4 linked regions of the Homo sapiens genome follow. The protein of the gene in region 3 interacts with the protein of the main gene of each other region in a pairwise test. Each region holds a gene or a part of one and is shown on either strand. Other genes may lie near its edges.

Region 1 (6,143 bases), on a different chromosome or scaffold from region 3:
GTCCACTGGACTTGTGAATATAGGGAAGACCTCACCTTGGAAATTTCCTCTAATAACAGAAGGGAATATCTAAAGTGTTGGGTCATGCATGTCAGTAAGAACAAGAACTTGGGAGAAAGCTCACAACCTCATTACCTTATCTGGTCCATACAACAAGCCTGGGAGGTGATTGTCTTCATCTTACTGATAAATATTATTATCTTCAAAGAGATGTGTCTCTTACATTTCTAAAAAGAGAACCCAGAGGCAAGCTAAAATTGAGATTCTGTCACAAGTGTTTAGTAAGTGCTCACATCGCTTTTATAAGGTGGTCACATTGCTTTTTATCAGTAATACGTGTTCCATTTTGAAAAATAAGAAATTATGGGTAAGCAAGAATAAACTCCCTCTTAATTCTACCACAGAGATAAACACTATTTACTATATATATGTGTGTGTGTGTATATATATATATATATATATATATATATATATATATATATATGACTGTTTAGGTGCATGTTTAAGATTTAAAGTAAAAAAGAATGCAGAGAATGCTTTTTAAAACTGTTTTATTAACTTCACAATATATAATGAGCATCTTTCCATGCAATAGGTAAAACTCTCCTGCTGACAGAAACTTACAAACTGGGTCAAAAACAACATTCATTTAGAAGCTGGTAATAGGAGACCCACAAGAAATAGGTAACATCAAAACGTTTACGACAAAGGTACACCACAAATGTGTAAGTTTAGGAAGCAGGGGTCTCCCTATTAACTTCAGGGAAACCATCAGGATTCAGGGCATAAGGCAAAACTCATCGTGATGGTCATGGTGAGGGGGATCAGTGCTGACTGCCCGCAAACTATGACTCAACTGCTTTTCCCTCAGCTTTTCCATCAGCTGTCTCACCTCCTCCCCAATCCTTTCCATATTCTCCTCTCTCATCCTTGCCTGTGGCTCTCCAAGCCTATGCATTATGTCCCATCTATACTGCAGGATGGGCTGCCTAACGCGGAACCGCCTACGGTTTCCTCTAGGCACACAGTATTCACTAACATTCAAAGGTAGGGCCAAGGGCTCCCCTTTATTAGCAACTTGCTCCTTTTCATCTTTTTCATCATTTTCCTGGTTGACATTTTCCACGATGAGATTGTTTAACGCTCGTTCCTCTTTGGACTCCATTACTCCTAGGAGACAGAGAGAAAATGGACTCAATTCTTGGTGAACTGATCAGCACCGAGGACAGAGGCCCGACTACCCACCTTTCAAAATTCAGAGCCCTGGATTTCAAAGGCCTTTTTTAAATTTCATTTTTTTTCCACCAGAGAGGCCCCATGTACCCTCGGGGGGGCGAGGGGAGCCAGTCTGTGCCCTTCTCTCCCGCAAAGCCCACCATCTTCTCTGCAGATCCATCTCCAGGCCTCTGCAGGCACCAAAATGGAGGACGAAGAAGGGGTGGGGGTGGGGGATTGCTAAGTGTGGGGGTGAAGGCACGGATTGGGGTCTCAGACTGGGCTTTCCTCATGTTCTGACCCCCTCCCCACCACCGTCCCTCGCACTGACCTGGGCCTATCCTTGCAGTCTCCTCCTCCCGATTCTCGACGTGAGGTGCGTCGCCGCAACACTTGGCCCCGCAAACCTGCAGACGGCCGGGGTGGGAAGAGTGGGGGCTGCTGCAGCGGAACGCTAGAGAGGACCCGCCGCCACCCGGCCCCTTCCCCACGCCGGGCCCGGGCCCTCCTAGCCGCTCTCGCCCCCCGCCTCAGCCGCCCAGCCCCCCAAGCTGACCACCATTTTCTGCATCAAGAAGGGCGGAGCAGGGGTGTTGGAAAAGCTTGCGCTGGTGACGGAGGCAGGTGCTTCCGAAAGGTCGTAGCCTCAGGATCGCCGGCTCCCGCGGGGCCGGGCACCCCTCCGCTCACACAAGGCTCGCGGTCCCGCGGCGGGGCCCCGGGGCTGCATCGTGGACCGGCTGCGTCTCCGCGCTGCTGCCCGGGGATGGGGCATCCGCAGGCCGGGGCTGCTCCCCCACACCAACCCCAGGGACCCCCTCCGGGTCCCTTACCTGCTCCCCCTCCGCTTCCTACTTTCGGGGCCGTACCTGGCCCGCACGTCCTCAGGGACACCGGGAACAGGTACCACTGCCGAGAAGGGAGCGAGCGACGGCGGTTCTGACGCCACAACGAGGTAAGACTCAGTGTTGGCCGATCACGTGTGGCTGTTGTCATCGCCAGAGGCTCCGCCCCCGTCCCACGCCCCCTCCTGCAGCCCGGAGTCAGGTGGTGCTTTCGGGCCCGCCCCCATCCTCACCGGGAGTCCCTTTTAACATCCCCAGCCTGGGCTCTGCCACTCTTCCTTCTCTGTATATTCTTGAGACTTCCCCTGCTTGCCCAGGAAGGACGGAAGGTATCTTCTCAGGGAGCTGTTGGCCATTCCCACTTCTCTGGGGACTTGCCTCTCTCTGCCCTTGGCTCCCAGGATTCACCTCCTTCTGCCTGTCTACCTCCTTCTGTCCTCCTACCAATATTCTCCGTTTTCTCTCCACTAAAATGAGTGGAAGAGGTGTATCAGGAAAGGAGCACAAGAGAGTAGGCTTTTCTCATTCTTAATACCTTTTCTGTATTATTTCTTTTGTAAAACACAAAAAATTAATATACTTCTTTAAAAAGGAAAAAAAGTTATTTTTACTTGAAAGACGGGATTAAAGTTGGGCAAAATGTCCCAACCACCTGTCCTGTTAAGTCATTATATAAATATAGACTCTACACGCAGCTGCTTTTTTAGAACTTGGAAAAGGACAGGGCAGCTGATGGCTCCCCTTTTGAGGGGCCCCTGGACACATGAGGCCCTTCTATGAAATGAGCTAGTGAGTTGTAGTGCTACAGAACCTTGTTGGGTTTTCATAACTAAAAGGAAAAAAAAGGCCTTTTTCACAAATTTCTGGTTCAAACGATAAGTATGTCTTTATTTAAAGATCAAGTAATCATGTATTTAGGAAATCCAGAGACATCTACGGTAAACCTACTATAGGAGTAAGAATTGATTTTAAGAAGGTTGCAGCTACAAGATAAATATTACAAACGTACTCATAAATTTATTTGAAAATGCAAAGGACCTAGAATAGACAAATAATTTTTTTAAAATATCCTACAAATCTTGAGAGTTACATTATATTATTTCAAGACTTAAGGTGTAATAATAAAGTTAGTGTAGTAGTAAACATAGACCTGTAGATCAATAGAACAGAATAGACTCCAGAAATAGACCCATACGTATGTTGTTAATTAGTTTTTGACAAAGATATCAAAGTAATTCTATATGGAAAGTATAGTCTTTTAAACTAATGGTGCTGAAATAACAGAATTCTTAAAGGAAAAAAAGGAGCCTTGCCTTTTATTTATACTATACACAAATTAATTCAAAATGGATCCTAGGCCTAAATGTAAAAGCTCAAATTAGAAAACTTCTAGAATAAAACATACAGAAAAACTTTACAATCTTTGAGAAAACAATTCCTTAGGACACAAAAAGAACAGATCACAAAAGAAAAAAATAAGAAATTGGATTTATCCAAATTAAAAACTTCTACCATTTAAAACACATGGTTAAGAAAATGAAGTGAGAAGCTGGGAGTAAATATTCACAGTATTTGTATCTGACAATGGTTTTGAATTCAGAGCATATATAAAGAACTTCGAAAACATAAAATAAGAAGGCAAATAATGCAGTAAAAATGATCAAAAGATCTGAATAAACATTTCACAAAACTACACACACAAATTACCAATGAGCTCATGAAAAGATGTTCAACCTCATTAACTATCAGGGAAATGTAAAATAAAGCCAGGATGAAAAATCACTGCACACCCATTATAATTGCTGAACTTAAAGTCTGACAGTCCCAAGCACTTTTGAAAATACTAAACAGCAGAAACTCTCACTGATTGTTGGTGAGAAGTTCAACCACTCTGAGACTTGGTGGCAGTTTCTTGAAAAGTTAGACTTACCATATGTCCTAGAAATTCCACTTTTCGGAATTTTCCCAACAGAATTTAAAACATATTTTCTCAAAAATATTTGCATAGGAATGTTCATAGAAATTTCCTTTATGATAGTCCCAAAGTTGATAAAAACTAAATGTCCAACAAGTGAAGTGATAAACAAATTGTGATGTATTCATACATTTTAACGCTGCTAAGCAATAAAAAAGTGACAAGCTACTGATACAAACAATAACATGGATGAATCTCAAAAAAATGAAAAAAATTTGTATCTATAAAGATACCAGCCACAATTGAGTGTTTTCTGCATGATTGCATTTATATAAGTTCTAAAACAGGCAAAACTAATCTGTACTGATATAAGTTGAATCAAATCAGTTTTTGCCTGGCTTGAAAGTTGAGGTTTTTGTGATTGCAAAGAGGCATAATGGAACTCTCTCAGCTGAGGAAAACATTCTGTATCTTAATGGGGTAGTGACTCCATTGACAAATACATTTGTTGAAATCATTGAACTATACAGTTAAAAGGTGTGTATCTTATTGTAGGTAAAATACAGCCCAATAAGTTTTGCTAAAAATCAAATATATAGAAATAAATCTAATTAAATACTTTCAAGACCTCTACACTGAAAATTATAAAATAGTTTCAAGAACATTAAAGAATAACTAAGTATAGGGATTACCATGATCATAGATGAAAACACTCAATATTTTAAGGATGTCAATTATACCCAAATTCATCTGTAAATTCAGTGCAATCCATATGAAAATCTCAACAGGTCACTTTTTGTTGATAAGCAGACTCCAAATATGTGTATGAAAATACAAAGAGCCGGGCCTGGTGCGGTGGCTCACGCCTGTAATCCCAGCACTTTGGGAGAGTGAGGTGGGCGGATCACGAGGTCAGGAGATCCAGACCATCCTGGCTAACACGGTGAAACCTGGCTCTACTAAAAATACAAAAATTAGCTGGGCGCGATGGCAGGCTTCTATAATCCCAGTTATTTGGCAGGCTGAGGCAGGAGAATCGCTTGAACCCGGGCAGCAGAGGTTGCAGTGAGCGGAGATTGCGCCACTGCACTCCAGCCTGGGCGACAGAGTGAGACTCTGTTTAAAATAAAAAGAAAAAGAAAATACAAAGAGTCAAATATAGCTAAGACAGCCTTTTAGATGGAGAAAGCTCCAAAACGTCCACTATTAGATATCAAAATTTAATACAATTTTATGAGTATGATATTGTCTCAAAGATTAAAATGTGTCTGTGTTTGTGTGTGTGTGTCTATCTTATATGGACCTGTGAAACATACCTACCTATACAGTCACCTAATTTATGATAAAGATGACAGTTCAATGAAGTGGGGGAAAGCATTTTTCTTTTCAAAAGTGGTTTTGAAAAGATTAGTTGGATATCCATATGGGGAAAAGATGTATATTGATTCCACCTTACATAATACATTAAAAACAAAAACGAAAAAAAAAAAAAAAAAAAAAAAACCTCAGTGGATTGCAGACCCAAATGGGAAAGGTAAAAATGTAATCCTAATGTAAAAAAACTCAGGGGATCACCTTCATGACTCTGGAGTAAGCAGTTTTCTTAAACAGGACACAAAAAGCACTAAGCATGAAGGAAAAAGATTATGGATTGCACTTTATTCATATTAAAACAAACAAACAAACAAAAAACTTCTAGGCCTGGCGCAGTGTCTCATGCCTGTAATCCCAGCATTTTGGGAGGCCGAGGCGGGCAGATCACCTGAGGTCAAGAGTTCAACACCAGCCTGGCCAACATGGTGAAACCCTGTCTACAAAAATACAAAAAAATTAGACAGGCATGATGGCGGATGCCTGTAATCCCAGCTACCCGGAAGGCTGAGGCAGGATAATCGCTTGAACCCAGAAAGTGGAGGTTGCAATGAGCCGAGCTTGTGCCACTGAACCCCAGCCTGGGCGACAGAGCGAGACTCTGTCTCAAAAAAGAAAAAAAAATTGTTTATCATACAACACCATTAAAAGAATGAGAAAGCAACCTGCAAACTGGGAGAAGATATTTGCAACAAATATATCTAACAAATGACTCATGTCCATAATGTATTATATAAAGAACTCTTAAAAATAAGTAAGAAAAGGAAAGATAATACAATGGAAAAATGGGAAAATAT
Region 2 (5,612 bases), on a different chromosome or scaffold from region 3:
ATGGCATGGTCTCCAAGTAAGAATGAAGGAATGCACGTCTATATTCTGAATGCAAGGCTACTGAATTTCATTAATAGAAGCAGTAGTTTTCATGGACTGCATACTTCCTATGTCAGGTACTGGGCTAAGCACTTTCCTTGCTTCCCACACTCAACTATACATTGTTGGGAGTTTTCCATTTTTACTTTGTTTTCAATGGGATTCTCCACTAAAATATCTGCTTATCTAGGACTCACGGGTAGGTAACTTGGACAATACATGGAAAGCACATTCTCTTACACATAGTAGGCACTCAGTAAGTATCTGTTGAATAAGTGAATGGATGGAGAGAATTAACTCCATTTTGAACAAATTATCTTTCTGAATGCAACCCTAAAACTTTGCCATTCATATTTCTCAGGAATGTCTCATTTAACTGATAATTTGATTCCTGGCCCATGCGTTAGTAAAAGTCATTTTTACATCAAGTTTCTATTTTTAGAGATCCTCTTTCCACAAGTAGAAATGACATAAACCACGCTCGTCTCCTTAGTTTATTTTTTTCTAGAGTCCTTAACATGCTACATTAACCTGACAAAGCTTAATCTTGTGTTCGTTTCACAATACATTTCATGCAGTTCACAGCTGTGATTGGTTTTACATTGACATTACACATGTTTCGATTCAGCCATGTGAAAAGAGTAATTCTTAATGGGGTTTGTCTCTGAAAACTGTCCAAGCTTAAATAAGCATATGAGCAGTTCACTCTATTCTTAAGTGCATCTCTCTTTAAAATGCAAGGATTTTTAGTGTAAGAATATAATGTCCCTGTTTATAGTCCATTTGCAACAGAACCACTTCCTTTAGGTTTCACATATCCTGAGGAATCCACTTTTACAAAATTGCATTCAAGTATATTATTTCATTTAACATTCCAGGTTGGGTTTAGGTGCAAGGCTGACCTTCAGCTTTACATCCCCAAATAAATCTTCCACGGACCCAGCCTTCCCAAGACTATTCTTAACATTAGACTCTCTTTTACAATAAACATTCAGCACTAAAGCCACAGAACAGAGCTATTTGGCATTTTCCAGTGAAGTGCAAGAAGTTAAATAAGTTATGTTTTTATTGCTAATGTATAGAATCAAGCACAGTCACTTTGTCAAACAGAAGGAAAGGGCATACACAAGATGTGGCCTCTCCTCAGATGCCTCAGGGTCAAAACGCACAGAAAATGTCACCTGGCCACCACCCATCCAGCACCACTTTAAGATGATGTGTTGAGTGTTCTAGAGTCTGAGGAGTCAGACCTCTCGTCATAGTCGTCCTCGGTGTAAATGGACTGCTTTGACACAAATGGACACCCATCATCAGGGATGGAAATCCGAGGGTCTTCCGTGGCGCGGGCAGGAAGGACGGGCGAGCTTCTGAAGACGCTGGTAGAGTTACTGGGGAAAGGACTGACATACTGGGACCTCAGCTGATACTGCTGCTGCAGCGTCATGGTGTTCCACAGGGTGACATCATTGGGCAAAAAGGGGCTCGACTGGCTTCTCGCCAAAGTATTCCTCAGCATCAGCGGGTACCGGGGTGGCTGGGGGAAAGGGGGCTGCAGAGGCCCAGCCAAGGGACTGGGGACAACGTTGCTAGAGTCGGCAGAAAACCTCAACGTGTCTGGGACTCGAAAGGCTGATCCCACAGACCATTTGGAAGACGAGATGGGGTAGGAGCTCAAGGTGTGTTCAAAGATGTGCCCATTGGAGGGCAACGCTAGACTCTCAGGTTCTGCGGAAGTTCGCTCTGCTCCCGTGACTGAGGATCGGCTGGACAGAAGGACTTCCACGGCGCTCACCAGGTCCCCGCCACAGCCCTTGAGGATGAGCTCAAGCACCGTTGGCTTCTGGTTGGGGAATATCTTTTTTAACACTTCAAGCGGCGGTCTGTTGGCTTTCAAGCTGAAGGGCAGAGAAACAGTCCCCGAGGGGCCCTCAATCAGGAGGTGATTCTGCTCCGCGTGACACTTGGGGCTGTCAGGGCGGCTCTCGGGGTTGCCTCCGTTTTTCTGGACAGCGTATCCCCCTTCCTCCACGGACACTATCTCAGGGCTCTCAGGGGTGAAGCAGCCCTTACTCTTTGCCACATCTGGGGAACTCCTCTGGTCAGTGTCTTTGTCACTGAAGACCTCTGTATTGTCTGCCGACTTGCCGTCTCCAAGTCGTTCTTCAGTCAAATCTGGAAAACAGAACAGCTGAGTTAATCTTTTCCTGGTGTGCATAAAGAGGAGCAGATGTGCTCAGAAGAGACCTGTACACGTGCTTTTTGGAAGAGCAAATGCATCTCAATGGGTCATAATATACTACAAGCCTTTTTAAAAAAATTCGAACTATATCACTGGCAAATGAAACAAAAACCCTGTAAATAAAGATCTAGAAATCAGAGTGGCTTCCTGGAATGCTTTGTGCAAGGAAGCTTGCCTTCAACATAGAATGGCTACATGAACCTGTAACATATGGCTTTCATAGCAGTAACAATCTCAATAGAGAGCCTCTTTGGGAGGAGGGGTGGGGGACTCCTGGAAGAGCAAAGCTCAGGGAGAAACAGGAAAATCAGCTCAGCTTGTCTTCCGGCTCCTCTTCTGCAAATAAGGTCCCCAGCTGTTATCTAGGGATAGTACCATCCAGATACCCACAGGGAATTTTAATATCTGAAATCTATTTTCCCATAGGCTGATTTTGTGTTAAATATGTCTTATGAACCAATCAGTAAGTTGCATCAGGTTACCATATACAATAGCTAGCTAATTCAATTGCTGAAGTGAAAGATACCTCTATCCATTGAAATCTTTCATAAGAAGCCACTTGAGGCATTGGCAAACTTGGTTGCCAATAACTTGTACTAGAAAGCAAACGAAACCAGCTATGAATTCCGGATGGCAGGATAAGTTGCTGGAGAGGAAAAAAGGAAGTGGCTAGAAAGGGTTTGTTAAATTGCACGGGGGCATTATTATCCATCAATGAAACAACGCATCACACTCCACCGCCACGGGTGGCACGAGGCAGATACCTGTGCATGAACTGTTTTGCTGGTACAGTTCATGGAAAGGACTTGAAGATACCTTTTTTTAAAGCCAGTGAAATTTGAAGATACCTTTTTATATTATATGAAAAGAAGAAGGAGGGAAAAAAAGGCTTCCCAAATAAAGCAGAGACTTGCGATAAAGTAAACCAGTTGCAAATTTAACATCTTGACCTAAGAACATTTTTACTTAACAGCTGGTAATATTGCAGGGCTAAGCACACAGAAAAGAGTAAGTCAGAGTGGTTTGCTTTGCAGTAGTAAATTCCAACAGGACTTTATAATAAAGAAACATATTTTTTAGTAGCAAGCTATTTGCAAATAGAGTTTTGTCCTTTTTTGAAACACGCGCTGGCTGTGGCTACTCAAAGCCAGGGTAGCTGATCGAAAGATGAAAATTCCTAATGACCCAGTTGTTGAGTTGTAAACAATTGCTTTGCCTGTGTTTTCTGCTGCCCTGCCTGAATAGCTTCATTGTTGCCTTCTCTGTGGGCACACCTGATTATATACAGATAGCCAGCCGGTGAAATTTCATCAAAGCACCCTCTAGAAACAATCTTCTCCTACACTTGTCATTTTAAAAGCCTTAAGGGCCTACTTATGAACATTCTTCTAATACAGGTGTATCTTAAGTGTAACCAAAAAACAAAACTTTGTGAAATTTCATCAAAGCACCTTCTAGAAACCATCTTCTCCTACACTTGTTATTTATTTTAAAAGCCTTAAAGGCCTACTTAGAAACATTCTTCTAATACAGGATGTATCTCAGATGTAACCAAAAACCAAAACTTTGGCCTTTAACAAAGCAATAAATATGTGGCAAACATAAGTAAATACACTTTAAAACACTCTTCAATTACCTCAGTGCAAGTGTCAACATACATCTGATAGGAATTCATACTTATCCCAAATTTGCATTTTAATTAAACTGCTTCTTTTTTAATATAAAATATAAGGTTTCCAATGAGAGGTTCATTTGCGTCACATACATATGAAGCCATCTTCACTTTATATAATGACTCTATAGAAAGACTCTACTGTAGAATGACTCTATTTTTGTAAGAGAAATTTGACATATTCTCTCCTACAACTTCTTAGGATGGGGGACACAGCTTTTACCTCTTGAGTTAATGTGGTATTTGAACTCATGTCCTTGATTCAAAAGAGAAAAACAGCAACAAAAAGGCTTCTATAGATTTACTTTATAATCAGCTAGATCTATTTAAATGTTCCTGACTCATGACCCATACATACTTCTTGGCTGTTACTCTATTATTAAACATTTGAAAATTATTAAACACTTGAAAAGTGATAGCATATTAATATACTATCACTTTTAGAAATTGGAAAAACAAGTCAAATACTCTCCCCATGTAAATATGGACATAAAGTACTTCTTTAAAATACTATGTACTTCTAAACAGTTTCCTTATTTTTTAATTTTAGCGTAATTATCAGCACCAAGTATTTATATTTCTGCACGATACTGGGAGAAACAGAATAAAGGATGAAAAACACCAAGAAGTGTAAGACCCACACCTAGCTTATGGACCTTATCTTCTAGCTGGGGAAATAAGACACACATGCAGGAGAAGAAGCAAACAGGGCCTGGCAGCATTTGCTAAGCCTCAAATATGACACACATTGTATACCAATGTTCATGGCAGCAGCATTCACAATAGCCAAAAGGTGAAAGCAACCCAAATGTCCATCAGTGCATGAATGTATAAAACGTGGTGTACACACACACACACACACACACACACACACACACACACACACACAGTGGGATATTATTCAGCCTTAAAAAGGAATGGAATTCCAATACATGCTATAACATGGATGAACCTTGAGAACATTAGGCTAAGTGAAATAAGCCAGACACAAAAGGACAAATACTGTATGACTCTACTTATATTCGATACCAAGAATAGGGAAATTCAGAGAGAAAGTAGTGTGGTGGTTGTCAGGGGCTGGAGGAAAAGGGAATGGGGAGTTATTGTTTCATGGGTATGGAGTTTCCGTCTGGAATGATGAAAAGGTTCTGAAGATGGATGGTGGTGATGGTTGCACAACATTTTGAATAAATGCCACTGAATTGTGCCCCTAAAAATGGTTAAAATTGTAAACTTTATGTTATATATACTTTACCACAATAAAAAAAGAAAAATATATGCCACACAGTGTCATAGTAATATAGAGAATGAAGAGATTTTTTTAAGCAAGAGAAACAACTAGTCCTTCTTGGGAATAAAGCGTACATAGGCACAGCTGGAAAGCTCAAAGCTCAACTTTTTTTTTTTTTTTGAGACAGAGTCTCACTCTGTCACCCAGGCTGGAGTGCAGTGGCATGGTCTCGGCTCACTGGAAACTCTGCCTCCTGGGTTCAAGTGATTCTCCCGCGTCAGCCTCCCGAATAGCTGGGACTACAGGTGTGTGCCACCACACCCAGCTAATTTTTGTATTTGTAGTAGAGACAGGGTTTCACTATGTTGGCCAGGCTCCTCTCGAACTCCTGACCTCATGATCCACCCGCCTCAGCCTCCCAAAGTGCTGGG
Region 3 (7,034 bases):
CAGTAGCATCCTTCACAGATTAAAGTAGTAATAATAGCAGTTAACATTCCAGTAGTACTTTTATGTTATGCCAGGCACTGTTACAAGAGTTTTATATACTTTACTGATGTTATCCAACAACTTGGTAAAGACTATTCTCCCCAGTTTATCAATGTGGAAACTAACAGGAGTTCATGGACTTGCTCAGGGTGGCACAGCTAGGTAAGCACCAGAGGCAGGATTTGAAACTTGGCCATGTTTGTGTTCTTAAATACTATGAAATAGTGATTTTTTTTTTTTTTTTTTTTTGGAGACGGAGTTTCACTTTGCCACTCAGGCTGGAGTGCAGTGGCACAATCTTGACTCACTGCAACCTCTGCCTCTGGGTTCAAGTGATTCTCCTGCCTCAGCCTCCCAAGTAGCTGGGATTACAGGAACGTGCCACCATGCCCAGCTAATTTTTGTATTTTTAGTAGAGATGGGGTTTCACCATGCTGGCCAGGATGGTCTCGAACTCCCTATCTCCAGGCACCTGCCCACCTCAGCCTCCCAAAGTGCTGGGATTACGGGCTTGAGCCACCACGCCTCCCCACCCCCTCCTTTTTTTTTTGAGACAGTGTCTCACTCTGTCACCCAGGCTGGAGTGTGCAGTGGTGCAATCTTGGCTCACTGCAACCTCCACTTCCTGGACTCAAGCAATTCTCCAGCCTCAGCCTCCCAAGTAGCTGGGACTACAGGCATAAGCCACCGATGCATGGAAAATTTGATTATAGGTGTGAGCCACCACACTCAGCTAGTGCTTTTAAATACTATGTAATAGGTCATCAGGTCCCCATAAATTTGGAATGTATTTTATTACATGTACTCTAAATGCCAGCTTGGCAATAGGAGGTTGGTTATATTTGACCATCTTTAGCAAACTTGAGCATATTTAGGGGTGGAAATGAGGACTGGGCTGATATTTGACTAACATTTACCAAGAACTCATTAAGCCAGGCTTTGTTTCAAGTTCTTATCCATAGACACTCAAGCAGAGCTCAGGACACATCCCTTAGTAAGAGGTTCCATTTACCTTAGTACAATACACACACTGGTATGGTCTGTCTCCAGAGTGGACTCGCATGTGTTTGTTTAGGCTGGAAGATTGAGAGAAACATTTCCCACATGTAGAACACTAAGGTGAAAAAGAAAAATATAGTTGAAATCACACCTTCCTCTAACAAGTCCATTTCAACCTTGCGTTTACCTGGGGTTAGAGAAGAACTCTTTTCCAATTTTTTTCTTTTTTTTTTTTTTGAGACGGGATCTCAATTTGTTACCCAGACTGGACTGCAGTGGCACAATCACGGTTCACTGCAGCCTGGAACTCCCAGGCTCAAGCGATCCTCCCACCTCAGCCTCCTGAGTAACTGGGACTACAGGTGCGTGCCACTAAGCCAGCTAACTTAAAAAATTTTTTTTTGTAGAGATGAGGTCTCACTATGTTGCCCAGCCTTGTCTTGAACTCCAACAGATCCTCCTGCCTTGGCCTCCCAAAGTGCTAGGATTATAGCCTTGAGCCACGGCACCCGACCTGAGAGAACTCTTGCTTCAGATGTGGAATGTGGGAACTGAACAGGTTTGTGGTATATGGCAGAGGCCTGAATTAGTCCTGCTCTCTCAACAGGTAGCTGTGTGACTACAGAACATTGGTTAAATCTGGAATCTTAGTTTCCCGATCTTGCTCATGGGCAAAATACCTGCTCTGCCTTCCTCACAGAGCTATGAGTAAACTACAAGTACTGTGCAATTAACTCAACAATTATCTACGACTTACAGAGTACCTACTGTGTGCTCCACACTGCTAGAAACCAGGAGCTAGAAATCAAGGAGGGGTGACGATGAACATGTAAGCCAACATGGTAATGCACAGTAGCAGATTATCTGAGACGTGTTGAACTTGCATGAAGAGGTTAATATTTTGTTCACACGCTGTGAATAATTAATATTGTTTCTTGACCCTGGCAACTCCTCTCGAAACTGTCTCAGGAATTCTACACCAGGTGAAGTAAACTACCAGAGAGGTGCAAGCACCGAGAGTTTGCCAGGGATAAAGCAGAAGGCCTTTGGTTTTGACATCACTTTTAAGGAAATTACACTAACTAAAGAGAAAAAACAATTTTTCTCTGAGAAAGGTTTCTGTGCTTTCACAACCTCTTTCCAGGCATGCTTATGGGGCAGAGGAGAGAGCAAATCTTTGTATTTGTTTATTTATTTATTTTTATTTATTTTTGAGGCAGAGCCTCGCTCTGTTGCCCAGGCTGGAGTGCAGTAGCATGATCTCGGCCCACCGCAACCTCTGCCTCCTGGGTTTAAGCAATTCTGGTGTCTCAGCCTCCCGAGTGGCTGGGACCACAGGTGCGCACCACATGCCCATCTCTACAAAAAATACAAAAAATTAGCTGAGCATGGTGGCATGCACTTATAGCCTCAGCTCAGCTACTTGGGAGGCTGAGGTTGGGTGATTGTTTGAGCGTAGGAGGTGGAGGTTGCAGTGAGCTGAGATCATGCCATTGTACTCTAGCCTGGGCAACAGAGTGAGACTGTCTCAAAAAAAAAAAAAAAAAAAAAGATTGTTCCTCCACTGTACTGTAAGAGCACCTCGTCTGTTGAAGGGTAAGCCATCATCTCACTATCACCAGCTTCCTCATCAGTCCTGTCATCTACTGACCTCCTGGTTGACAGCCCTCCAGTTTCTTTTCTTTTTTTTTTTTTTTGAGACGGAGTCTCGCTCTGTCACCCAGGCTGGAGTGCGGTGGCGCGATCTCGGCTCACTGCAAGCTCCGCCTCCCAGGTTCACGCCATTCTCCTGCCTCAGCCTCCCGAGTAGGTGGGACTACAGGTGCCCACCACCACGCCTGGCTAATTTTTTGTATTTTTAGTAGAGATGGGGTTTCACCATGTTAGCCACGATGGTCTTGATCTCCTGACCTCGTGATCCACCTGTCTCGGCCTCCCAAAGTACTGGGATTAGGCGTGAGCCACCACTCCCGGCCTCCAATTTCAAAGAGAGCAAGCATTCTATACATCTTCTGTAATTTGGTTTTTGCTTGATAAGACAATATTTTTTTTTTTTTTTTGGGATGGAGTCTCACTCCTGCCACCCAGGCTGCAGTGCAATGACACAGTCTCGGCTCACTGCAACCTCCGCCTCTGGGGTTGAAGCAATTCTCCTGCCTCAACCTCTAGAGTAACTGGGGCTACAGGTGCCTGCCACCACACCCGGCTAATGTTTTTATATTTTTAGTAGAGATGGGGTTTCGCCATGTTGGCCAGGCTGGTCTCGAACTCCTGGCCTCAGGTGATCTGCCCACCTCAGCCTCCCAAGGTGCTGAGATTACAGGCGTGAGCCACTGCGCCTGGCCAGTAAGCCATAATTTATATAATCAATTTTGTGTTGATGAACATGCAGTCTCAAACTTTTCACTATCAGAATACTGGATAGTTTTCACTTTTGCCAGTCTAATAAGCGAGAAATACCTTCACCGTCCTGATATTTTTAAATCCTTTTAGAATTACACAAATGCATGATAACTGTAAATGTATTCAAATTTTATAGGAGTATATAATATAGTGATTAAACATGACTTTTCCAGAAGCTTAGGAAGGAAGGGAGAAATTAGGACAATTTTATGATGATTTTATTCTCAGTTTTCAAAACAGGAAAATGGGCTCAAGGTCGTAGCTGCCTGAGGTAGTTCCGACAAGGCCAACAGTCAAGCAAGAATACATCTGTGCCCAAGCCTCGTCCTCCTTTTAATTAAGCCCAAGGGAATATTGTACTTTTTTGCAGCAAGCCTAGCAGAGCATCCAGGTATTTGGAATGGCTCCGTAATGTCATTACTGATTTTCTGTCTTACAAAATCCTCGGCCCACTGTAGAGGCCTTCCGCTCCTTGGAAGGACCGTGCCTTCACTTCCTTCTTACCTATACCTGTCAACACACCTGCACAGATTTGGAACAAGGCGCAGTTCCCCAGGAGCACATGCCAGGCTCTCTCCTGTCTGGAACAGCTCGACTCTTTCCTGCCCAACTAACCCTGCCACCAGTATAAATCAGACACCCCATTTGTCCTTCTATACTTGGCTCAAGGCCACCTCTGTGCATCTTTCATAATCCACGTGTCCAGGTGGCCGTGGACACTCCTTCCTCCATGTTCCTCCCTCTGTGGGTACCTGCATCCTAACACATGTGCATCGCTGTGCCTATTCACGCCTGCCTGTTCCGTAATACTATCCTCTCCTCCTTCAGAGAGGGTGTCCGTCAGGCATCACAGCCCTGCAGCTAGCACCTACAAGGCAACTCCCCGTGTTCAGGAGCTTGGGAAGGGAGAGAGAACGTGATGGTGGGTCATGTGTCCTCCTAATACTCACCTTGTGAGGCCGGTGCTTCTCATGAACATGAAGAATGTGGATCCGAAGCCGGTCCCGCTTCTCAAAGGATCGTTTGCAGAGAGAACAGGGAAATTTCCTATCGCCCTTGTCCACACAGGGGGTGTACTTGAGGTGCTTATCTCTGTAATATTTGTAGGTAAATACCTTCCCACATCTTTCACATCTGTAGCCTTCTGCAGACTCTGTCAAACACAGCAAACACAATGTCTCTTCAGTTACTTCCCTCCCTAGTTCCTTCAAGAGGATATTTATTTATTTATTTATTTTTAGCCAAGAATTCTTTGGCTACTTCAAGAGGAATTTTCTTTTTTTGAGACAGAATCTTGCTGTATTGCCCAGTCTGTAGTGCAGTGGCACGATCTTGGCTCACTGCAACCTCTGCCTCCCAGGTTCAAGCGATTCTCCTGCCTCAGCCTCCCAAGTAGCTGGGATTACAGGTGCCCACTACCACGCCTGGCTAATTTTTGTATTTTTAGTAGAAACAGGGTTTCATCATGTTGGCCAGGCTGGTCTAGAACTCCTGACCTCAGGTGATCAGCCCCTCTTGGCCTCCCAAAGTGCTAGGATTACATGCGTGAGCCACTGTGCCTGGTCAAGAGAATTTTCTTTTCTTTTCTTTTTTTTTTTTTGAGATGGAGTCTTGCTCTGTCACCCAGGCTGGAGTGCAGGGGTGTGATCTCGGCTCACTGCAACCTCCACCTCCCGGGTTCAAGTGATTCTCCTGCCTCAGCCTCCCAAGTAGCTGGGACTACAGGCACACACCACCACGCCCAGCTAATTTTTGTATTTTTAGTAGAGGTGGGGTTTCACCATCTTGGCCAGGACAGTCTTGATCTCTTGATCTTGTGATCCACCTGCCTCGGCCTCCCAAAGTGCTGGGATTACAGGCATGAGCCACCATGCCCGGCCGCCAAGAGAATTTTTAAAAACCTTTTTATTACAGAAAAATGTAAACATACCAAAGTGAAAATAATAGTGTAATAAACCCTCATGTGCCAAACACCAAGCTTTGACCAACTCGTAACTAATTTTGTTTTCATTTATATCACCGCTCGCCATAGTAGATTATTTTAATACTAATTCATCCTTTGACTCAAAAACATCTAACCGTAATCTTTAGAAGATGACATATTTTTAAAAAGCATAATTGTGACCAGGCAAAGTGGCTCACGCCTATAATCCCAGCACTTTGGGAAGCTGAGGCAGGTGGATCACCTGAGGTCAGGGGTTCAAAACCAGCCTGGCCAACATGGTGAAATCCCGTCTGTACTAAAAATACAAAATTAGCCAGGCGTGGTGGTGCCTGCCTGTAATCCCAGCTACTTGGGAGGCTGAGGCAGGAGAATCACTTGAACCTGGGAGGCGCAGGTTGCAGTGAGCCAAGATTGCACCACTGCACTCCAGCCTGGGCAACAACAGCAAAACTCCATCTCAAAAAAAAAAAAAAAAGCATAATTGTGCCAGGTGCAGTGGCTCACGCCTATAATCCCAACACTCTGGGAAGCTGAAGTGGACAGATCGCTTGAGCCCAGGAGTTTGAGACCAGCCTGGGCAACATAGTAAGACCCCATCTCTACAAAAAAATAATAAAAATTATCTGGGCATGATAGCACACGCCTTTAGTCCCAGAGGCCGAGATGGGAGGATCACCTGAGCCTGGGGAAGTTAGTTGAGGCTGCAATGAGCAGTGATTGAGCCACTGCACTCCAGCCTGGGCAACAGAGCAACACTTTGTCTCGAAAAAAAAAAAAAAACATAACCATAATGTCATTGTCACATTGTCATACCTAAACGATTAACTCTTATTCTTTTATAGAAACATATATGTACTTATATATGCACATTTATATACACACATATATATTTGTTTAATTACTTTCTGGTCAGTCCATTCAAATTAGGCTTCAAACAAAGTCTACATGTTGTATATGGTTGCTATGTCTCTTAAATATCTTAACCTATAGGCTCTCTTTCCCTTTTGTTCCTTGATATGTACTGTTGAAGAGACCATTCCACCAGCCCCATTTAAGGGCAGTGCAACCCTGCAGCTCTTGAACACATTCCTGCCTGGCACTTGTTACAAGGTTAATACACTGAGGCACTGAGGCCGACCTATTTCTCTTTGTGCCTTTAAGATCAGCCTGAGTTACAAGCTCAGAGCAGTCACCAGGACACCCGCAGCTCACAGTGCTGTTCTATTCTACACAATTCAAGGGACCTTCTTAGTTTATACTTCATTACTCAAAACTTGTGGCAGATTCCAGAGCTAGAATCTTTATGTATAGAGTAAGGTTGAAAGCATCTTGACTTCCCTAATGCACAGGGTTACCGTGATGACTAATTTAATTCTAACACTTACCGAGTCTTACCAATGTGAGTGATACTATCACTGAATGGCAGACAAGACTGAGAGGTAAATCTGTTTTTATCAATGGAGGAGGGAGGAGGAGAGAAGTTAGAGAGGGTGCAGCTAGACTCTAGCAAAGCAGGTCCCACGTCCAGGGGTGTCTATGTGTTGGGGGAAGGCGAGAGAACAGGGGCCACCTACAAAAGCATCCCTGCAGAGGACACTCTGGATCCCAGAGGATAAAGTGGCTTTGACTATGAATGCACCACAGAGAT
Region 4 (7,034 bases), on a different chromosome or scaffold from region 3:
CAGAGCACCACAGCACCCATGAGAGAGCACAATAGCAGACAAGGGAGAAGGGGAGGGCAAGAGAGAAGAGGAGGCGGAGAAATAAGCAGGTGGAGAAGAAAGCGGAAAGGGGACAGGAAGGTAGAGGAGGAGGAGATGAAGGTGGAGGAGGGCAAGAGGATAGCAGAGGGGAAAGGAAAGGAGAAAGAGAAAGGGAGAAAAGGAGGAGATAAGTGAAAAGGAAAAAAAAAACACTTTTGCTAAACCCAACAGGAAGCCAGAGGGCAAAAGAATCCACTGAAACATTTCATGGAGGTCAGCCTACTGGAGAAGAGGGGAGAGTAGAGGAGGGGGGACTGGAGGAACAGATGATACCTGGCACACTCATCTATCCATTTGTGCCTAAGGTTATCCTGAAATTTTTTAAATTCTAAAATAAACTACTTGAAACACAGTGAGATAAGACTTATGTAATATGGAATTTGATGAATGCTTGATTTGTTGAAATCTTCATGATCAAACACTGCAGTCATATCCTCTTCCAGGCTTCATATTTCTCAGCTGAGTCTTACCATCTTTATTCTACCTTAATATGAGACTATCTTCTTGGTAATTTTAATTAAAAGTATTAGAGGAAAACAACACTTTGACAATTTTTCATCTTGTCTATGATTATAAAATGGTTTTATATGACTAAAATTGTTCTACAGGAGCTGAAAGTTTACCAAGCTTAGATTCATATGGAGTCATATAAGGATTATAAGAGCACTCAAGGCTTGTTATAACATTTAAACATCTTACATGTGTATCAAAAACTTAAGCACTCAAGCTTAAACATAATCCACTATCAACTGAGAAGCCTCTGTAACCATGATAAAAATGAAAACATATAAACTATGATTTAAAAGGCATATTTAGTTATTTGAACCACTGAATACAATTAGCATTTCAGTAATTAATCTATAGCAAACTAATACAAACCTACGATCAAGTTAAAAACATCTGGATTAACATCATTATGAATTTTATATAGTTAGATCTAGTCTAAAACCTCACATGGGCTGGGCATGGTGGCTCAGGCCTTTAATCACAGTACTATGGGAGGTGGAGGCGGGTGGATCATTTCAGATCAGGAGTTCAAGACCAGCCTGACCAACACGGTGAAACTTTGTCTCCATTAAAAATACAAAAAATTAGCTGGGTGTGGTGGCTCACACTTGTAATCCCAGCTCCTCAGGAGGCTACGGCAGGAGAATCACTTGAATCCAGGCAGCGGAGATTGCAGTGGGCCGAGATTGCCACTGTATTCCAGCCTGGGTGACAGAGTGAGACTCTGTCTCAAAAAAAAAAAAAAAAAAAAAAAAAAAAGACACTATTCACACTATTAATGAGTCGATTTACCATTTGGGGTTTTAAAAATATATATACCTAATTATCATAAACCTAGCGATAAAACCTGAAACTAAAAACTTCTAGAAGAAAACACAGAACAAAATCTTTATGACTTCAGGTAAAGAGTTCTTAGATATGCCATCAAAGCACGATTCATTTAAAAAAATTTTGAAAAATAACACTTAATAAAAATGAAGAATTTCTGCTATTTGAAATACAACATCAAAAAAATAAATGAACAGGCTGGACCCAGTGGCTCACGCCTGTAATCCCAGCACTTTGGGAGGCTGAGGCGGGCGGATCACCTGAGGTCAGGAGTTCAAGACCAACCTGGCCAACGTGGTGAAACCCCGTCTCTACTAAAAATACAAAAATTAGCTGGGCATGGTGGTGGGTGCCTGTAATCCCAGCTATTTGGGAGGCTGGGCAGGAGAATCGCTTGAACCCGCGAGGCGGAGATTGCAGTGAGCTGAGATCCTGCCATTGCACTCCAGCCTGGACACCAAGAGTGAAACTCTGTCCGCCCGCCCCTCCTCCCCCCGCCAAAAAAATAGAAAATAAGCAAACGAATCACAAAATGGAAGAAAATATTTGTAACTCATAATCTATAAAGGACATATATTTAGAATATAAAAGAACTCAATGATAAGGAAAAAAACCCTATTAAAAAGGTGAGAAGGAACAAAACATTTGAACAGATACTTCACCAAAGAGGATATACACATGGCAAATAAGCACATGAAAAAAATGTTCAATATCATTAGTCATTAAGAAAATGCAAATCCAAACCACACATGTAATGAGAAACCATTACACATGTATTGGAATGGCTAAAGCTAAAAAAGGCAACACCAAGGGCTGACAAGGATGCAACTGGAAACTCACACATTGCTGCTGGGAGTGTAAAATTATACAGCCATTTTGGAAAACAACTTGGCAGTTTCTTATGACGTTAAAAATTTACTTACAATATAACCCAGCAATTCTATTCCCTAGGTATTTACCTGATATAAAAACCCATGTGCACAAAAAAAACCCTGTATGTACATGTTTATAGCAACTTTATTCATAAGCACTCAAAACTAGAAAAATCTAAATGTCCTCTGAGAAAGGGATAAACAAATTGTGGTACATCCCCATACAATACAACACTACTAAGCAATAAAATGTAATGAAATACTTAAACATGCAACAACATGGGTAATTCTCAAATGCATCTGGCCAAAAAAAACAGATCAAAAAAGCTACATACTATATGCTTTCATTTATGTTATACTTAAAAAGGCACAACTTTAGAGAAAAAAAACACATCAAGGGCTTACCAGGAGCTGGGAGTGGAAGGGAAGGACTGACTATAAAGGGGGCATGGAGGAAATTTTTGCGATGATAGGACTGTTCTGTAACTTGATTGTGGTGGCAATTACATGTCAGTACACCTTTGCCAAAACTCACAAACATATATGGTATAAAGGGTGAATTTTACTGTACATAAGTTATACCTTGGTAAAAAGAAAAACAATTGCTTGGTAACTCAGGTACTGTATAAAACAGACTATCCTGATATAAATTATTAATAAGACATTTACCTTGCTTTTTGTTTTAAAAACCACAGTTAATTATCCCCTCACATAACAAATGTTTATTTAGTGAACACTGAGCCAGGCACCTGTTATTCAATTAATATTTAATTACTAAAACATAGACTCTCAGTTGGGGGTGATTTGTCCTTTCTGATGCATTCTTTATCAAAGCAGGAGCATAACGAGATTCCTATATTTAACTAGTTAGTTTGGCCTAACAGTTGTATCTGGATCAAAAAACACCCCATGTTTACATTTATCTACTGCAGAAAGCTTTTCTTTAAAAGTCATATAGAAGGAATCCCACAAGACATCACCCAAAATCCATTTTGGCTAAAAGTGTCTTTTAAAACATGTAAAGATCTTATATATGTTTAACATGTATAACAGCAAAGCTGAATATAAATGCCATGAAGTTCTTCACTGGCAAGTGGAACACTACGGTGATTGATATGCTTTGAATCTGTGTCCCTGCCCAAATCTCATGTTGAATTGTAATCCCCAATGTTGGAGGTGGGGCCTAGGGGGAGGTGACTGGATCACAAGGGCGGTTTCTCATGGTTTAACACCATCCCCCTTGGAGCTGTTCTTGCAATAATGAGATCTGGTTGTTTAAAAGTGTGTAGCACCTCCCGCCTTGTCCTCTTGCTCCTACTCTGGCCACGTGACCAGTGTGCTTCCCCTCTGCCTTAGGCCATGAGTGTAAGTTTCCTGAGGCCTCCCCAGAAGCCAAGCAGATGCCACTATCATGCTTCCTGTACAGCCTGAAGAACCGTTAGCCAATTAAACCTCTTTTCTGCATAAATTACCCAGTCTCAGGTATTTATAGCAATGTGAGAACAGACTAATACAGTGATATATGTCCAAACACATACATTTTATAGCAGACAAGAACCTGTTACTAGCCAGCATCATTAACTCTACAAATATATTTCGTAGCAATTGAGTCTATCTCCTCCCCAATCAAAACAGATTTTAGATTGCAATTTTAAAACACCAGCCAACTTAAATAAACCTGAAATTCTTTAAAAGTCCATTGTCTATGAGTTTCCAATGCTGCTATAATAAGCAACAGATTCTGTTAAAAATAGACTTACAGAGGCTTTCCATTTGTTGTATCAAATATTTCCTATAAAATATACCTTAGAATTATTGTAATAGACTTTTGTTAATCACTTAACCTATAATGAAAATATTTCTAATGATAATTTCCAAAAACTGTATAGAAGGTAGCTCCATATTAAACTTAAAAATCTCTAATAAATGAAATTCAAGCAATAAAAAAACACAAATTTATGCTACCCTATTGGAAAAATGTATGAGAAACTTTACCTCAATTTTCTCAGGAAATGCTAATCTTTGGTCACATACTTTCTGGTTAGTACATTATTCTTATTTTTTTTTAATACGAAGTACAACAAAACCAAAAACAAACAAAAATCAGAGGTGCAAGTAAGAGAATAGCCAGATGACTGCATCTGCCTGCCAATGAATAAGCAAATACTTACCTGTAGGGGGAGTGGAAGAAACAACAGGGGGAGTTGGAGAAGTGAAGCCATCAGCAAGGGTCTGGGCACCCCCAGCAGCAGCGTCTGGGGCAGTGGAGGAAGGGACAGTAGCAGGAACAAGAGGAGCAGGGGCAGATGCAGAAGTAGCAGGAAGGGGAGGAGTGCCAGCAGAGCCAGCAGGGGCTGAGGGGAAAGAGGAGTAAGAGGCAGCATTAATGAGGCAATCACATGAGGCAGGATTAGAAAAGGTATTAGAGTATTTAATGTTAGATATTCAGTGCTTAACACTAACCAAAAGAACAGAGTTGAAAAAAAGAATAAAACTTATGCTAAAGGATTACTATATAAGCAGCAAATAATTCAAGATGCTCAGGGTAATGTGCAGATTTTTTCAATTCATTAAAAACAAACATTCCTTTTCAATTGAAAGCACTACTCCAGAAGAAAAGTGTTCCCTTCGTATTGTTATTTTTAGCATAACATTCTGTATATAGTATACAAAACTAACATAATACACTAAAAAACAACAGTTTTCCATTTTGAATTACACAAATCAGAAAATAGACATATTCCATATTATCAGATTAAAAATTTTTTTTAAAACACAAATCTTTATGATTTTTAAAAGGCATTATCTACTTGTTACTATAAGTAAATTAAGTATGTAACATTCTATTAATGTATTTTGTGTCACGTTTTCAAAACTAAGTTTTAAGTGTGTATCTCCTCGAATCAAATAAGCAGATTTTTCTGTTTCAGAGAAAAGAGGGTAGTATTTTCAGAGACTACTAAATTCCAATACAGCCACTAAATTTAACTGTCAAAACTACTTTTTATATCTGCCCAATCCTTTGTTACTAATATGGTTCTCACACTGAGTTCCCACTGTGTCCAAAGACTGCACTGTCATAACACTAGCTGGAATTAAACTTGTACTCATAACAAAGTGTGATCTGAAACCTCAAAGCAGCAACTGAGCCACATCACCAAAGGCATAAAGAGAAGTGCAAAGTGAGCAAACACTTACAAATCACTTGCTTACAAATAACAAATATATAGACTTCCCAATATTTATGATTCCTAAAGAAAAAAAATCCTGATTACGAAGAAAGCCCACCATAATTAAATCACAAATTGAATCAAATTCAGAAAGGAAAAGTGAAGACGAGGCACCATGAATGTTTTACCTGGAAAGACACTGGGAGGAGATGGAGTAGGAACAGCAATAGGAACCCCCACACTACCACTTCCACTGTTCTCTCGACTGCTGCTCCGACTACTTGGGTGGCTCCCTCCACTACTCCCACTGCTGCTAAAGAAATAAGAGCCACCAAAACATGAGTATTTATAAACAGTAAGAGATCATCAGCACTTCCCGACATTTTCTGAGATGAATGTAGCTACAATAAAGGTAATTCAAAAGCGTACCACTTCAAAATAAAATTTCCTTGAGCTCCAAGTCAGTGACAGGTTAAAAAAAAATGTGTGTGTGTGTGTGTGTGTGTGTGTGTGTGTGTGTATATATATATATATATTTACTTATTAATAAAGTTGAGGGGAAAACTGAGTTCAATAAGCTTGTTTTGACCACATTTTGAAAAAATTATCCATAAATACAAGTGATAAATGTTGAGGTTTAACACATTAAAACAATAAATATTGCCTTTTTATATTCCAGTTTAATGCCTATCTGAAGAAACTTCTTTTATAATAAAACAAAAACATTTTCCTAAACAGATTTGAGTAATTTTAATTAATAATCATACTCTGATGTACTATCCCATATTAATGTTTTATTATGTATAGTTTTTCATCTGTAAAGTTCCACCAAAAAACAACCTGACATTTCCCACATTTGGTCCATAATTTTTTTTCCAGATCAACTGAACTCTTAAAACTTGGAGAGAAGTCTGCACTTTGAGATGTCTGTTCTTTATCAACTTCCTGACTGCTCAAAGTTGAATCAGAACATGAGGAGAGAGAGGTGAAATCAGATGAGGTTTGGGAGAATAGAGTGAGGAAAAGAACTTAGTGCTTGGAAAATGAGAGATTTACCTGAAGTAATCTGAACAGATTATGGTACTATGACCATCACATTTTGCACTGAGGTAGAGAAAATACCTGTAAGTTCGATTTCTTTGATTCACAGAAGCTGTCCTCACAGGGCTCTGCTGCGAGGGAGCCATATTACGGGTTGGGCTAGGTACGTAATCATTTGGTACCACTGGAGGACGCACTGGCTCCAGTGTGCGATAGGGGGAGTGCCGCCTACAAAAAGAAGAGCGTATGTATTGTATGATTAAGCAAGTTTCGGCACAATAAATTCAAAGAGTTGCCAGCAGTTGAGATACAATTTGTAATCAGAGATAGGAAATGTGTTTTAACATAACCCAGCTACCAATTTCAGTCTTTACTAATGTATCACTTCTCCACCATTAGGGTTTTGGTGAATATTGTTATTTTTCAGTCTCCAACCTCATTTCCCTGTGCTAATGCAATTTTGTTCATTTATTCTCAAAGAGCACAAAGGTTCTCTACCATTTAAGCCAATGTTTCCCAGACCCTACCTCTTCTT

Evidence for each region.
Region 1: the proteins of PRDM14 (region 3) and BEX2 interact in binary tests that used the Homo sapiens proteins (3 or more experiments, as listed by UniProt).
Region 2: the proteins of PRDM14 (region 3) and DMRT3 interact in binary tests that used the Homo sapiens proteins (3 or more experiments, as listed by UniProt).
Region 4: the proteins of PRDM14 (region 3) and ABI2 interact in binary tests that used the Homo sapiens proteins (3 or more experiments, as listed by UniProt).

What each region holds. Positions count from the first base shown.
Region 1 is NC_000023.11:103,308,812-103,314,954, forward strand, and holds BEX2 (protein BEX2), read right to left. Parts: upstream 2,180-6,143; 5' UTR 2,049-2,179; exon of another isoform or gene 1,787-2,048; coding exon of another isoform or gene 1,772-1,786; intron 1,623-1,771; coding exon of another isoform or gene 1,547-1,622; intron 1,171-1,546; coding exon of another isoform or gene 1,166-1,170; coding exon 779-1,165; 3' UTR 535-778; downstream 1-534. UniProt on the Homo sapiens protein: Regulator of mitochondrial apoptosis and G1 cell cycle in breast cancer.
Region 2 is NC_000009.12:986,640-992,251, reverse strand, and holds the end of DMRT3 (doublesex- and mab-3-related transcription factor 3), read right to left. Parts: intron 2,212-5,612; coding exon 1,247-2,211; 3' UTR 520-1,246; downstream 1-519. UniProt on the Homo sapiens protein: Probable transcription factor that plays a role in configuring the spinal circuits controlling stride in vertebrates.
Region 3 is NC_000008.11:70,054,249-70,061,282, forward strand, and holds part of PRDM14 (PR domain zinc finger protein 14), read right to left. Parts: intron 4,595-7,034; coding exon 4,392-4,594; intron 1,154-4,391; coding exon 1,052-1,153; intron 1-1,051. UniProt on the Homo sapiens protein: Transcription factor that has both positive and negative roles on transcription. Required for the maintenance of embryonic stem cell identity and the reacquisition of pluripotency in somatic cells.
Region 4 is NC_000002.12:203,394,393-203,401,426, reverse strand, and holds part of ABI2 (abl interactor 2), read right to left. Parts: intron 6,728-7,034; coding exon 6,581-6,727; intron 5,772-6,580; coding exon 5,647-5,771; intron 4,643-5,646; coding exon 4,460-4,642; intron 1-4,459. UniProt on the Homo sapiens protein: Regulator of actin cytoskeleton dynamics underlying cell motility and adhesion. Functions as a component of the WAVE complex, which activates actin nucleating machinery Arp2/3 to drive lamellipodia formation.